Homo sapiens: one gene and its partner. The protein of the gene in region 1 interacts with the protein of each later gene in a pairwise test. Each region holds a gene or a part of one and is shown in the gene's direction. Other genes may lie near its edges. The genes, in order: YTHDF1 and ITSN2.

Evidence for each region.
Region 2: the proteins of YTHDF1 (region 1) and ITSN2 interact in a two-hybrid assay, tested with the Homo sapiens proteins (one study listed by BioGRID and IntAct).

What each region holds. Positions count from the first base shown.
Region 1 is NC_000020.11:63,194,748-63,199,238, reverse strand, and holds the end of YTHDF1 (YTH domain-containing family protein 1), read left to right. Parts: intron 1-2,504; coding exon 2,505-2,531; 3' UTR 2,532-3,810; downstream 3,811-4,491.
Region 2 is NC_000002.12:24,357,506-24,364,926, reverse strand, and holds the start of ITSN2 (intersectin-2), read left to right. Parts: upstream 1-4,390; 5' UTR 4,391-4,623; exon of another isoform or gene 4,624-5,088; intron 5,089-7,421.

The sequences.
Region 1 (4,491 bases):
CGAGTCAGTGCAGTTTTAAGAACAAAGTAGTGTGCCGAGGAGAGGGTTGTGCGCCTGTGCTGGTAGAGCCCCCGGGCGGTTTTCTCAAGGTTCTCTCAGGACTTCGAAGAACAGACCCACCTTTTCTTTATCATTTAGAGTTTGGCCCCATTGCTGTAAAGGTCATAAACAAGTTGAGTGTTGAGAAAGTGAAGTAGAGTTAGCATTTTGCAAGATTGCTGTCCAGCTATAAATTTAGAAACATACTGATTTCTTAGGATGGCAGTAGCTTTTATGGCAGCAGAGTCAGACCAAGTCCTGGGTTGATACATTTTTTGGTTTTAAAAAAACCTAGAAACGGCCACTTCTTAGCTTAAAACAGTGAAAGTGGTGAGCGTCCCACACTGTGAGCATTGCTTAGTTCCTCAGACTGACTGTCCTTGCCCTGGCGGCAGGTGCCCCTGACCTGACCCCACTTCGACCTCCAGGCCGGCTCAGCAGAGTGGCTCTTTGACTTTGGAAATTAAGAAAGAGCATAGAGAATCTTAGGCCATAAGCATTTCCTGGATGCTTGTTGAGCATTCCTCAAAAGAACGAGCTGTGCTTCGTCATTTTTTTTTTTTTTGAGAAATTTTATGAGGAATAGTATTTTTTAAAGAGCACATAGTAAACTTTGTAGCTGTTTATAAGGGCTGAAGGGAGATGGGGATCTGGGGAGTTTACCTGTGAGTGGCTTTAACATCAGCTATTTGAACTCAAGAGATTGGTATTTGCTTTTTAGGAACAGCAGTACCTCTTTTGTTAAGAGATTGATTGATTGAGAGTTTCGCTGTCTCCCCCAGGCTGGAGTGAAGTGGCACAATCTCAGCTCACTGCAACCTCTGCGTCCTAGGTTCAAGTAATTCTTGTGCCTCAGCCTTCAGAGTGGCTGGGATTACAGGCGCCGGTCACCATGCCCTGCCAAATTTTTTTTTTTTTTTTGTATTTTTAGTAGAGGTGGGGTTTTACCATGTTGACCAAGCTGGTCTCAAATTCCTGAGCTCAGGCAATCCACCCACCTTGGCCTCCCAAAGTGCTAGGATTACAGGCATGAGCCACCACACCCAGCCTGGGAAGAGATTTTTTTTAACGGAGAATGTTTAAGAGAATGTAAAATACAGAGTTCTTAATTTTTCCAGTTTTACATTTGAGGGTAGGGAGGAAATGTTAATTCTTAAGAGTAGGACCTGCCTATCCAGGTCCTTAATCCAAATACTCTGGAGCCTTCTCGGGACAGGGAACACCACATCTGCTTCTGAGAGCAGCCACAGTTGAGGAGGCTGGTGTTTATTCCAGTGCCCAGCAAAGTTTATTATTAACCGGAAGACACATTCAGTCCATTTTTAGCAAAAGAGGAGGTTTCAGGTTAAATGTTTGGGTGTCCTGCCCGCTGGTTTTCTTTATTAGTTTGCATCTTGATAGATGGCCAGATGAGGGTGGATGTGCCTGGGATGCATCTTTTTGTTTTGTTTTTATTTCGAGATAGGGTCTCTCTCTGTTGCCCAGGCTGGAGTGCAGGGCAGATAATAGCTCACTGCAGCCGAAAACTCATGGGCTCAAGCGATCCTCTCGCCTCAGCCTCCCGAATAGCTGGGATTACAGGGTGCGCCACCACACTCGGCCTGGGACACCTCTCTAGCAGAGTGGTGCAGCGTGTGCTCCTTAGATCGCACATTTTCATCTTTGTATGCTGCCTTGTAAGGAGACTGAAGGGGCTTCTAGACCCTGCTACTCAGGGAGGCCAGTGTGGGAAAAGATTCGGGTGTAAGTCTCAAGCTTGTGTGTCACATACACTCTGGAAAAGATGATTCTCTTACGGGAGTGGGCAGCAAACCTGGTCAGAGGAGCTTTGCCTTGAGCCAGTCTAGCCGTGGGGGAGTGGGGAGGGGCATGCTCTTCCCCTTGGCGTGGGAGTGAGCTGGGGAGTGGGAAGGGCCTGAACTGGACAGGCCCACACCGGTCCTCCTGCCCTTCATTAGCCACATGACACAGCACCTTGTTAGCCAGTTGGAAGGATTTTGGTGTCCTTTGTGCCACTGAGAAGTTTAAATGAGATAAAATACAGAAGAACAGCTTCTGTCTCCCTGGCCTCCTTGAGAGCCTGGTGCGTGCCAGCTCCTCCCTCTGAGTGCAGAGAATTTCACATTGCTAAGTGTCTTTCCATGTGGAATGATAGTGGCACATGAGGGAAAGACAGCTGTGGGAAGTGAGGCTTCCCAGCAGACAGGTGGCCCATGTGACCGTTGTGGTTGATGCTTTTCTCCTGGTAGAGGGGGTGGGGAGAATGCCATGCCCAGTGTGGCCAGTCCCCCACAGAGCAGGCCCCAGTGCAGCTCAGAGTTGTGTGCTGGTGTGGCTTGGGTACCATTCAGGGTCCCGCCTCCAGATTTGCAGGTGCTGCTAAGGGGCAGCCTCGGATCTCACTTTTGGGAGGGATTCATTGGTGTGGTTACTCTGCGTTCAACTTTTGTTTTTTCTTTTTACAGGAACGGCAGAGTCGAAACAAACAATGAGGGCGAACCAGTTTCTTACATGTTCTAACGTTTGACTTTGAAAACAGTTTAAAACACGTGTGCTTGGTCAGCTCCAGTGTGTCGTCCCGTGCGGGGGTTGAGTGTTGCATCTTTGCCTTTCTTGTCGTTGATTTTTGCCCAGATGGATCTGCATTTATTTGTACTTTTTCTATGTATTATAATCCTGTAGAAGTCACTAATAAAGGAGTATTTTTTTTGTCAGCTTATCAATCAGACTGATCTAATGTGAAATGTAAGTATCCTTAAAAACAAAGCATCTATTTTGGCAGAAATTGTGTTCTTAAATTCAGTCATTTGATATTCTGTGAGACTTCATATTTCTCATCCCTTTATTGCTTTTTAGCAAACATAAGAAACCATGAGTCATTTTGTCATTTAGAGTATTCTGATAAAATCTCTTGAAAATACTGAAATCAAAAGGTTAATGATTTTTTGTTCATTCTGATTTGTCATTTTATTATCTGTTATCGGTCTAAAGTGCTAATTTACCCATTTGATTTTTCTGCTAGACAGATAACTTTTAATTTTTCAAATTTGGCAGACACTTTTTTTTTTTTTTTGAAAATCTTTCCTTCCAGATCTGTTGCCCACTGAACAGCCACCCGTCCCTCACTGTCCTGGTGTCCGATTGGGCTGGATGGTGTTGGGGCATGATGTGTGGAGGAACTGGAAGGTGCTTTAGGTCTGGTTCAGGGTCGGGCATTCTTTGTTGTTTGCACATCTTTTTAAATTTTACACCTTTTCTTAAGAATTCTAATGCCGTCTTAAGTTTTTATACCAATAATGCTGAGCTTTAAGTGTAGGATCTGGTAGTACAGACAGTGTGATGGATGATGCTGCTGGTTGTAAATTTCATCGTGTGTGTCTAATTTTTTTTCCTGTTGAATGGGTAAAAACAAAACAAAACTTTTTTTAGAAGATGAATTTGCTGTCATGTTTTGTGGAATGAGGGACCGTTGAGCTCACTACCACCTGGAGTTTGAGTTGAAGCATGAAAATGGTGCCCATGCCTGACGCTCCAGCGCCTGGATCTGCACGTGCCCTTGTAGAGGATCCTTACCGTCCTAGAGAGCAGACGCTTTCTGAAAACTACTTGCTCCAAAAGACCCTCTGAGTTAACGTTTCAGCTGTATCATTAGACTTGTATTTAGAGCGTGTCACTTCCTCTGAACTGTTACTGCCTGAATGGAGTCCTGGACGACATTGGGTTTTTCCTCTAGGAGAATACAAGCCTTAATAAACAATACTATTTAGCAAACTTGGTGTCACCTCATTCTTCACCCTACTTGATGAGTTTATGTGTTGGAGCTTTTTAAGCTGCAGAGCCATTCGGGGAGTCACCGTAGAAAGCCCTGTGTTTCTCAAGGTGTGGGATTCTCGTTCCCTCGCTTTGGAAGAGGGAGCTGTTAATTTCCTTAAGACTATAAACTACATGGCACCGTCACCCACCCCTCATCACATGAATGTGCAGACGCAGCGGTGCGTGCAGCACCTGGGCACCGCTACCCCCTTTCTGGACTTGGCTCCTCACCGTCTCTCTCCATTCATCCTCCAATGCCTCTTATTATTTATGCAATAAGAGTTTAATACCTGTTTAGTTTGTTTTCCTTTTGAGGTAAAATTTATAAGCAGTGAAATGCACATTGTGTACATCTGCAGAAGTTGACAAGTATGTGATAAAGTTATGCAATATTAGCCTCAGCCCAGAAAATCCTGAGCTCAGGCAATCCGCCCGCCTTGGCCTCCCAAAGTACTAGGATTACAGGCACGAGCCACCACACCCAGTCTGTGAAGAGATTTTTTTAACAGAATTTTTAAGAGAATGCAATGCAAAATACAGAGTTCTTAATTTTTCCAGTTTTACATTTGAGGGGTAGGGAGGAAATGTTAATTCTTAAGAGTAGGATCTGCATATCCAGGTCCTTAATCCAAATACTCT
Region 2 (7,421 bases), on another chromosome or scaffold:
CCAAGGACCAAATTTGTCCCATTGACCATTCTTGTGAATTGAGTCTCCACTGCTCCTCACCAGTGCTCATTCCTTGCGAAGTCCTTGTTTCTAGTGGCCAGAACATGGTAGGGTCTTTTAAAAATTATTAATTTAAAAAATATATAACTCATACCTACTGCTGTTCACGTGGAACTCTTCTCCACTTCTGCCTTCAAAATTCCCATCTGAATATTTGCTACGAATGTCAAGATCTGTGCCTGCATTGGCTCCACCCAGGCCTGTGCCCCAGGCTTCAAGTCTCAGGGCAGAGCATCTGCAGGGATGGGAACTTGGGGTTGGGGGTTGAAAAATGGGAAATGATGCCATCTGCTCAATCCCTTTCCTCTCCCTTCCTCTGCTCCTCCAGTGCCATCCATTTTCAGGGTTAGTTTGTTTGGCAGGTGGGAAATATTATCATAGGAAACTCGGATCCTCAGGAAAGAATGAAGAGTGCCCAAAATAATAAATATCTGGATAAATCAAGACTATTTTTGTTGCCTGTAACCTATTAATTTCTTTATAAATTATTTATTTAAAACTTGGCTCATGCCTGTAATCCTAGCACTTTGGGAGGCTGAGGTGGGTGGATCACCTGAGGTCAGGAGTTCAAGACCAGCCTGGCCAATATAGTGAGACCTTGTCTCTACTAAAAATACAAAAAATTAGCTGGGCTTGGTGGTGGGAGCCTGTAATCCCAGCTACTCAGGAGGATGAGGCAGGAGAATCGCTTGAACCTGGGAGGCGGAGGTTGCAGAGAGCTGAGATCGCGCCATTGCACTCCAGCCTAGGCAACAAGAGTGAAACTCCATCCTAAAAAAAACAAAACAAAAACAAATAAAAAACCCCCAAAGTTACAGCATTGTTTTGAAGGTAAAACTATAACATGAAATATGAGCTCCAGGTTCTCAGTCTTTCTACTCTATATGATAATGGTATTTATCTTATGGGATGCCTGGACTCTAGAACTGTTGCTTCTACCTATTCTATACTCTTCTTACACTGCAGGTTTGTTTTGGGGGTAAACATGGTAGAAATGGGGTACAGGATGGAATCTTTGAAAACTAACTTAAGGGGAGATTGATAGAACATAAGATACATATGGTTGAGGAGAAGGATCAATAATACATGGAAAAGAAAACAGATAGAGACTAAACGCTCCCAGGGTAAAAGCTAGGTCACCAGGAACAAGTCTAAGAATCTTGCCTAGACTGTGGCAGAACTAGAGGAAGAGAAATGTAACATGGTAGGACTTAGCTCCTCCAGGTATTTGATTTCCAGCTGGTGCCAGAAGTAAAGAAAAGATGCTGGGATTTGGAGAATACTAAGGAGGAAATGTATAGACACACTTCCAAGGCTGCCCTATGAGAAGAGGAAGTCAAGGAACTGGGATGGCGGCTGCATCATCTAAATGAATCATGAACACTGAAAGACACTAAGGATGATGAAGGTCCTGGGCGGAGAGTACTGGCTGCTCCATGTGCAGAAATTCTTGAGGAATATATTGAGTGCCCTGGAAGATGGTAAATGATAAGGATGAGGATAGAGGATGGGTGTAGCTAGTGTTATAAGCCTCATAGGAGAAGGGGCTTTTGCATGTGAGTGGAAAACTAGGATCTGGATGCAGTCGAGGAGCAAGGAAAATGTTTCTTCAGCCACTTCCAAGGTCTGTGCTTCCCTCCTGTATTCCATTCTTTATCTTGTTGAATAGAACTACCATTACCCAAAAACCCAAGAACCCTTTACTCCTTCTCATTCCTTATATCCAACCACCAAATGCTTAATATTGCCCAAATTTATCCCTGAATCACACAGGGTGGGAGGTATGTGTGAGAGAGAAGATAGATAACTGGAGGTGCTTGCATTTTGGGCTGTGATAGAGTAGGACAGGATGGACAAACTGGCCTCAAAGTTCTGAAGGGAACTCTGGGATACAGTTGTTTTAGTACTTGGGATACTGTAGGCATGCATTCAGGACCCTGATTTCCAGCAGAGGTTGTTAGTTTTTTGGTTTATTTTAGGGGGGCTTTAAATTTTTTTTTATTCCTTTATAAGCATCTCTTTCTACAAATTCCATTTTTGTCCTGCCAAGGATTTGGCACCTCCTTTAGAAGGAAAGGAGACTCAGGGTAAATTGCACCAGGTCTAGAACCCGAAAACACAAATGACATTGGTCAAAGGATGGGAGAAAAATGAAGACTAGCTATGTGCCTAACAGGAATAAAAAATAGGTTTTACCTCTCAGACCAACTCTCTGGAGCACTATGTTGTGAAGGATTCTGGGGCTTTGACTCTCAAATATGGGCTCCAAAAGAGCATATCAGTTAACTGGTGAAGGGTGCAATGGGAATGAGGCCACGTGCTCAAGATTGCTATCCTTGGCCTGGGTGGTTTGTTTGCAGATAAGGACAGATTGGCTGGTCCCCAGCAAGTGAGGGGCCTCCTAGACTGATAAAAGAGTCAGGCTTCTCTGTGTCACTGAAGCTCAGGACCTGTCTGTCAGGTCTTGGTCAGGTTCTAATCGAAGAGTTAGGAAAAACACTGAGTGTGAGAGCGGGAAAAGCCTGTTTATCATCATCGATGTTTGGTAAATTCCTCCTAAGCTGGCTGGCCAGTTCAGATAGGCCTGGGTTTGGAGCCATCTCACCTTCACCTGCCTCAACAGGTAAGGAATGAAAGGATGCCAGGGGTTATTTGATCTACACAGATCAAATCAAGGGATATGAGTTTTGGACCCCAGACCAGCCCTCACCCTGCTTCTAAAAGCCAAAATAAATCTTGGGTCTTGGCCGGGCGTGGTGGCTCACGCCAATCCCAGCACTTTGGGAGGATGAGGCGGGTGGATCACCTGAGGTCAGGAGTTTGAGACCAGCCTGGCCAACATGGTGAAACCAGTGTCTACTAAAAATACAAAAATTAGCCGGGCGTGGTGGCAAGTGCCTGTAATCCCAGGTACTTGGAAGGCTGAGGCAGGAGAATTGCTTGAACCTGGGAGGCGGAGGTTGCAGTGAGCACAGATCTCACAGTTGCGCCACTGCACTCCAGCCTGGGCAACGGAGTGAGAGTCTGTCTCAGGAAAAAAAAAAAAAAAAAAAAAAAAAAAAAAAGAAATCTTGGGTCTTATATCCAAAAATCTTGAGTCTTACATTTGGTTACTTTTTTTTTTTTGAGACAGAGTTTCGCTCTTGTCGCCCAGGCTGGAGTACAGTGGTGCAATCTCTGCTCACTGCAACCTCCGCCTCCCAGGTTCAAGCGATTCTCCTGCCTCAGCCTTCCGAGTAGCTGGGACTACAGGCGCCCGCCACCACGCCCAGCTAATTTTTGTATTGTTAGAAGAGGCGGGGTTTCACCATGTTGGCCAGGCTGGTCTCCAACTCCTGACCTCAGATGATCCACCTGCCTCGGCCTCCCAAAGTGCCGGGGTTACAAGCGTGAGCCACTGTGCCAGGCCGACATTTGGTTACGTTCATTAGGAAACACTAACTCCTCCCTCACCCCAATCAAAAGAAAGCCTTTCCCCTTGAAGAAGCTTCTTGTCAAGGGCAAACCTTTGGGGTTTTGGGATACGGTGGCGGCTTGAGTTGAAGTCTGGTCTTTTGTGAGGAGACCAGGAACCGGGAGGGGAGAAAAGAGACAAATTCTGAGTAGGAGCTTCGCCTGTCCCTTGGCGAGGGGTGGGGAGGAAAGTTTAGCTTCGTCGTGCTATGCTCTATGGGGACAGAGTCTTCCTACTGCTCGGCGGAGTGTGACTAGCGTAGAGGGTGCTCCTCGTGGGCGCTCCGCGTGTGTTATGGAGGAGGGCGAGGAATGGTGAATGGATGACCGAGGGTATGGTTAAGTCCTCCAGGTCCCTGAGAAGGGTTCAAGAGGCCTGTAACAGACCCATGGGCAAGGGTGGGATCAACCTCCTTCCCACCTTCCACCCCCCAATTCCCAGAGAATTCGTTCCCCCAGATCAGTGGAGAAAACTTCGGCGAGTGAGAAGGTTCCAGGGAGAACCCCGTGGTGGGTGCAACAGGGATGTGGCAGGCACTGCTTGGGACTTTCCAAAACCCCGGCGTCTGCCGTGGCAGGAAAAGCACCACCCAAGCTCAGCATGTTACCTCGGGGAGGAGGAGCCAGGTGGGTCTGTGCAACTCCAGGAAGGGCTGCCAGGTCTGGGGCTTCGGGGCCTCCCCGAGGGCAGAGAGGAGCGCTTCGGACCCGACCGACTCGGAGCAGACCTTCAGGGTTCAATGCCCCGGAACTCCTGGGGCGAGGAGCCACGCCCGGGCAGTTTCGGGCTCCGGAGGGTGGGGAGTCGGTGCCCGGCAGCGGGCGGGCCGTCAGCTGCCCGGCCCGGCGCCTACCTCCCCGCCCCCCGGCTTCCTGCGGAGGCCGCGGCCGCCATGTTGTTGTGGGGCTGAGGCGGCGCCGGCGGAGCCCTGAGCGGCTGTGACAGGCTACGCAACAGGTTCGCGGGCGGCGGCCTGACGACCAAGCCAGCTGCAGTGGCGGCGACGGCGGCAGAGCAGGGTCTCCCCGCGCCTGCCCGCGCCCAGGCTGCCGGTGCTGAGGGACGCGGAGTCGCGCTGTGACGAGCGGGAGGCGCGGCGAGGGCGCCAGGTGGGTGAAGCCGCTAGCGGGGCTGCAGCAAGGCGCGGGGCAGGTGCGGGCGCCGCGCCCGCTGCCCGGAGGCTCTGCGGGTCGGGCTGAGGCGGCTGTGCGCTCCGCACGATGGGGACGGGTCCTCGGGAGTACGGGCGGCCCCCGAGCTAGGCCCCTGGCGGGCTCGGCCGTGCGGGGCGGAAACCTCCGGCCCCGGGTTCCTTCCTCTGCTGCCGGGCCGGGACAGACGCCGAGGGGGCCTGGGCTGGGCTGCCCCTTCCTTGCGGCCGAGCCCGGGTCCCTGGCCGCGGCCTCGTCTGGCAGGTGGCGGACGCCGGCGAGGGTCGGGGGTGGCGTGGCCCCCTCGCTTTCGGGGTGTGAGCAGAAGAGAGCTCTGGGGGCACCCGCACGCCTCCTCGGGGACCCATTTTATTTTCGCGGAGTTGGTTTTCCTTCCTGGCAAGGGTTGGTGCCGAATGTCAGGTGAGCCGCATCCCGGTGCGTCAAAGTAGCCCGAGTCACGAGAGGACAGTGGGCGGATGCTTGGCGTCTACCGCTCGCGTTCCTCCGGAGTTGGAAATGTTAAATTTACCTTCAGCGTTATTGACTTCCAGAATATACAGGAAGCACCGAGAGATGTAATCTCTCAGGCCAGATAAAGTTTATTTGTGTATTTATTTATTTATTTTTAAAGACGTCTGCATATGCATAGTGAGTGGGTAAACCGAGGCTGAAACTGCAGATGGCTTTGTATTCTATAGAAAGATGCTCCGTTTGGATTTATTAATTATGCGCCTTGTCGCTCTAGAATTACCAATGGCAAGTGTGCTTTATTTGAAACTTGTGTTAATACTGAAATAGGAATATTTTTTGATGGAGCCAACCCCTTTACGATAGGAATTAAGGTTAGCATAGAAATGACTTGCTTTGCTCCATGCTTCTAGTTTGTCTCACTAGTGTTTGCTTGCTTACTCAGAAATAGGCAAGGTGTGACTTGAAATTTTACGTTGTTAGTGAGCTCAGTTTAGGTAGCATAGCTCTTGTAGTTTAAAGCTTCTTAAGCGTTTCGAAAAATTGCCTCTCTCCCTGTGCTGGTTTGCTATATTGTTAATCAGTGATAAAACCTAAAAGCTACCTAGAAACATCGCATAAAACATTTACGCGAATTAATAATGACGTCCTTCCAAATTTAAAGATACTGACAACTCTGATGTGTTTTCCTTTAGCTTTTTTTGGCTGTGCCTGTGACTCTCTTGTAATTTCAAAAGTAAATAAAGTGGATGTATTTTATGTTTTTGAAAACGTGGAAAAAATGTGCATTGCTGCTATTTTGATGTAATATTAATAAGCAGTTGAAAAGCTTGCATTTTTTCACCCTTCCATGCATTGATAACTATTCCCTGTGCCCACCTTTGTAATGAAAGGTAAACTCGTCCAAGAAAACTTGACCTGTACAGAATTACTAAGCAGGGAGTTACCATTGTTCGGTACATCTCAAGGCTAAAATCTTGATCTCTCCTGAATATGAGGAGGTGTGTTAGGCATGTTTTGGGGATTGGATTAATAGTGTTAAAAAATTTGTATTTTCACAAAAATAGCATGTACCCATCACCCAAACTCAGCAGCTTTCAAGAAGCTTTTCTTTTTTTCTTTCTTATTTTAAAAAATCCTTTAACCTTATGTAGTTAGTATATCTTTTTTAAAAAGTAGAAAATCATGTAACCTTAGGATTTTTAGTTTTAATGTAGAGTTTCACAAATTTCCATCTTTAGTAAGACAAAAGGGTCACATATTGGCTGTCTCCTTCAACTATACTTTCTTCAGTATAAAATATGTTTACCATGGTTGTCATTTATCGAGCACGTAACTGCATGTTAGACTCTATGCTAAGTGTTTTACATAATCATTTAAAGCTCACTAAGGCCCTAGGAGTAATTATTATCTTCCCATCAAAAAGGTAAGTGAAATGTTAACCTGAAGTTTGACTACTTTAGGTCTCTGAGCTAGTAAGTACAATAGCCAGGTTTCAAACCAAGATCCTTTTAACTGCAGCACCTGTGCCTTATCTGGTAGAGTCATCTTGGTTCATACATTTAAAAAAGAGTTATCTATGTGCCGGGTGCCCTGGCTCATGCCTGTAATCCCAGCACTTTGGGAGGCCGAGGAGGGCGGATCACCAGGTCAGGAGTTTGAGACTGACCAATAAGGTGAAATCCTGTCTCTACTAAAAAATACAAAAAATTAGCCTGGCATGGTGGCGTGCGCCTGTAGTCCCAGGTACTCAGGAGGCTGAGGCAGGAGAATCGTTGAACCCGGGAGGCGGAGGTTGCAGTGAACCGAGATCGCACCACTGCACTCCAGCCTAGGCGACAGAGTGAGACTCCGTCTCAAACAAAAAAAAGAAAAAAAAAGTTATATGGGCATTCAGTAAAAAATATGTGTTTAGTGAATGAGTGAAAGTACATATTAGTCCATTAAGTAGCATTTTTACATATTGTATTTACTTGTAAAACATTTATATTAACAAGTTCCAGAAATGATTCAGAATAAACGAGTTACATTACCAAAAATGTGATATATTTATTACCATCTAACGGTGCATTTTCTTTTTCTTTTTTTGGATTCAAGTTTTTTTAGTACCTTTTTTATTTATGGAAAAAATTTGTGAAAAAACTGTTTTTGAAGAAAGGCAGACTTTCTTGTGTGCCGATTTTTTTTTATTTCTTACAAAAAAAACAGGATATATGTGCAGAACGTACAGGTTTGTTACATAGGTATACGTGCACCGTGGTGGTTTGCTGCACCTATTCACCCGT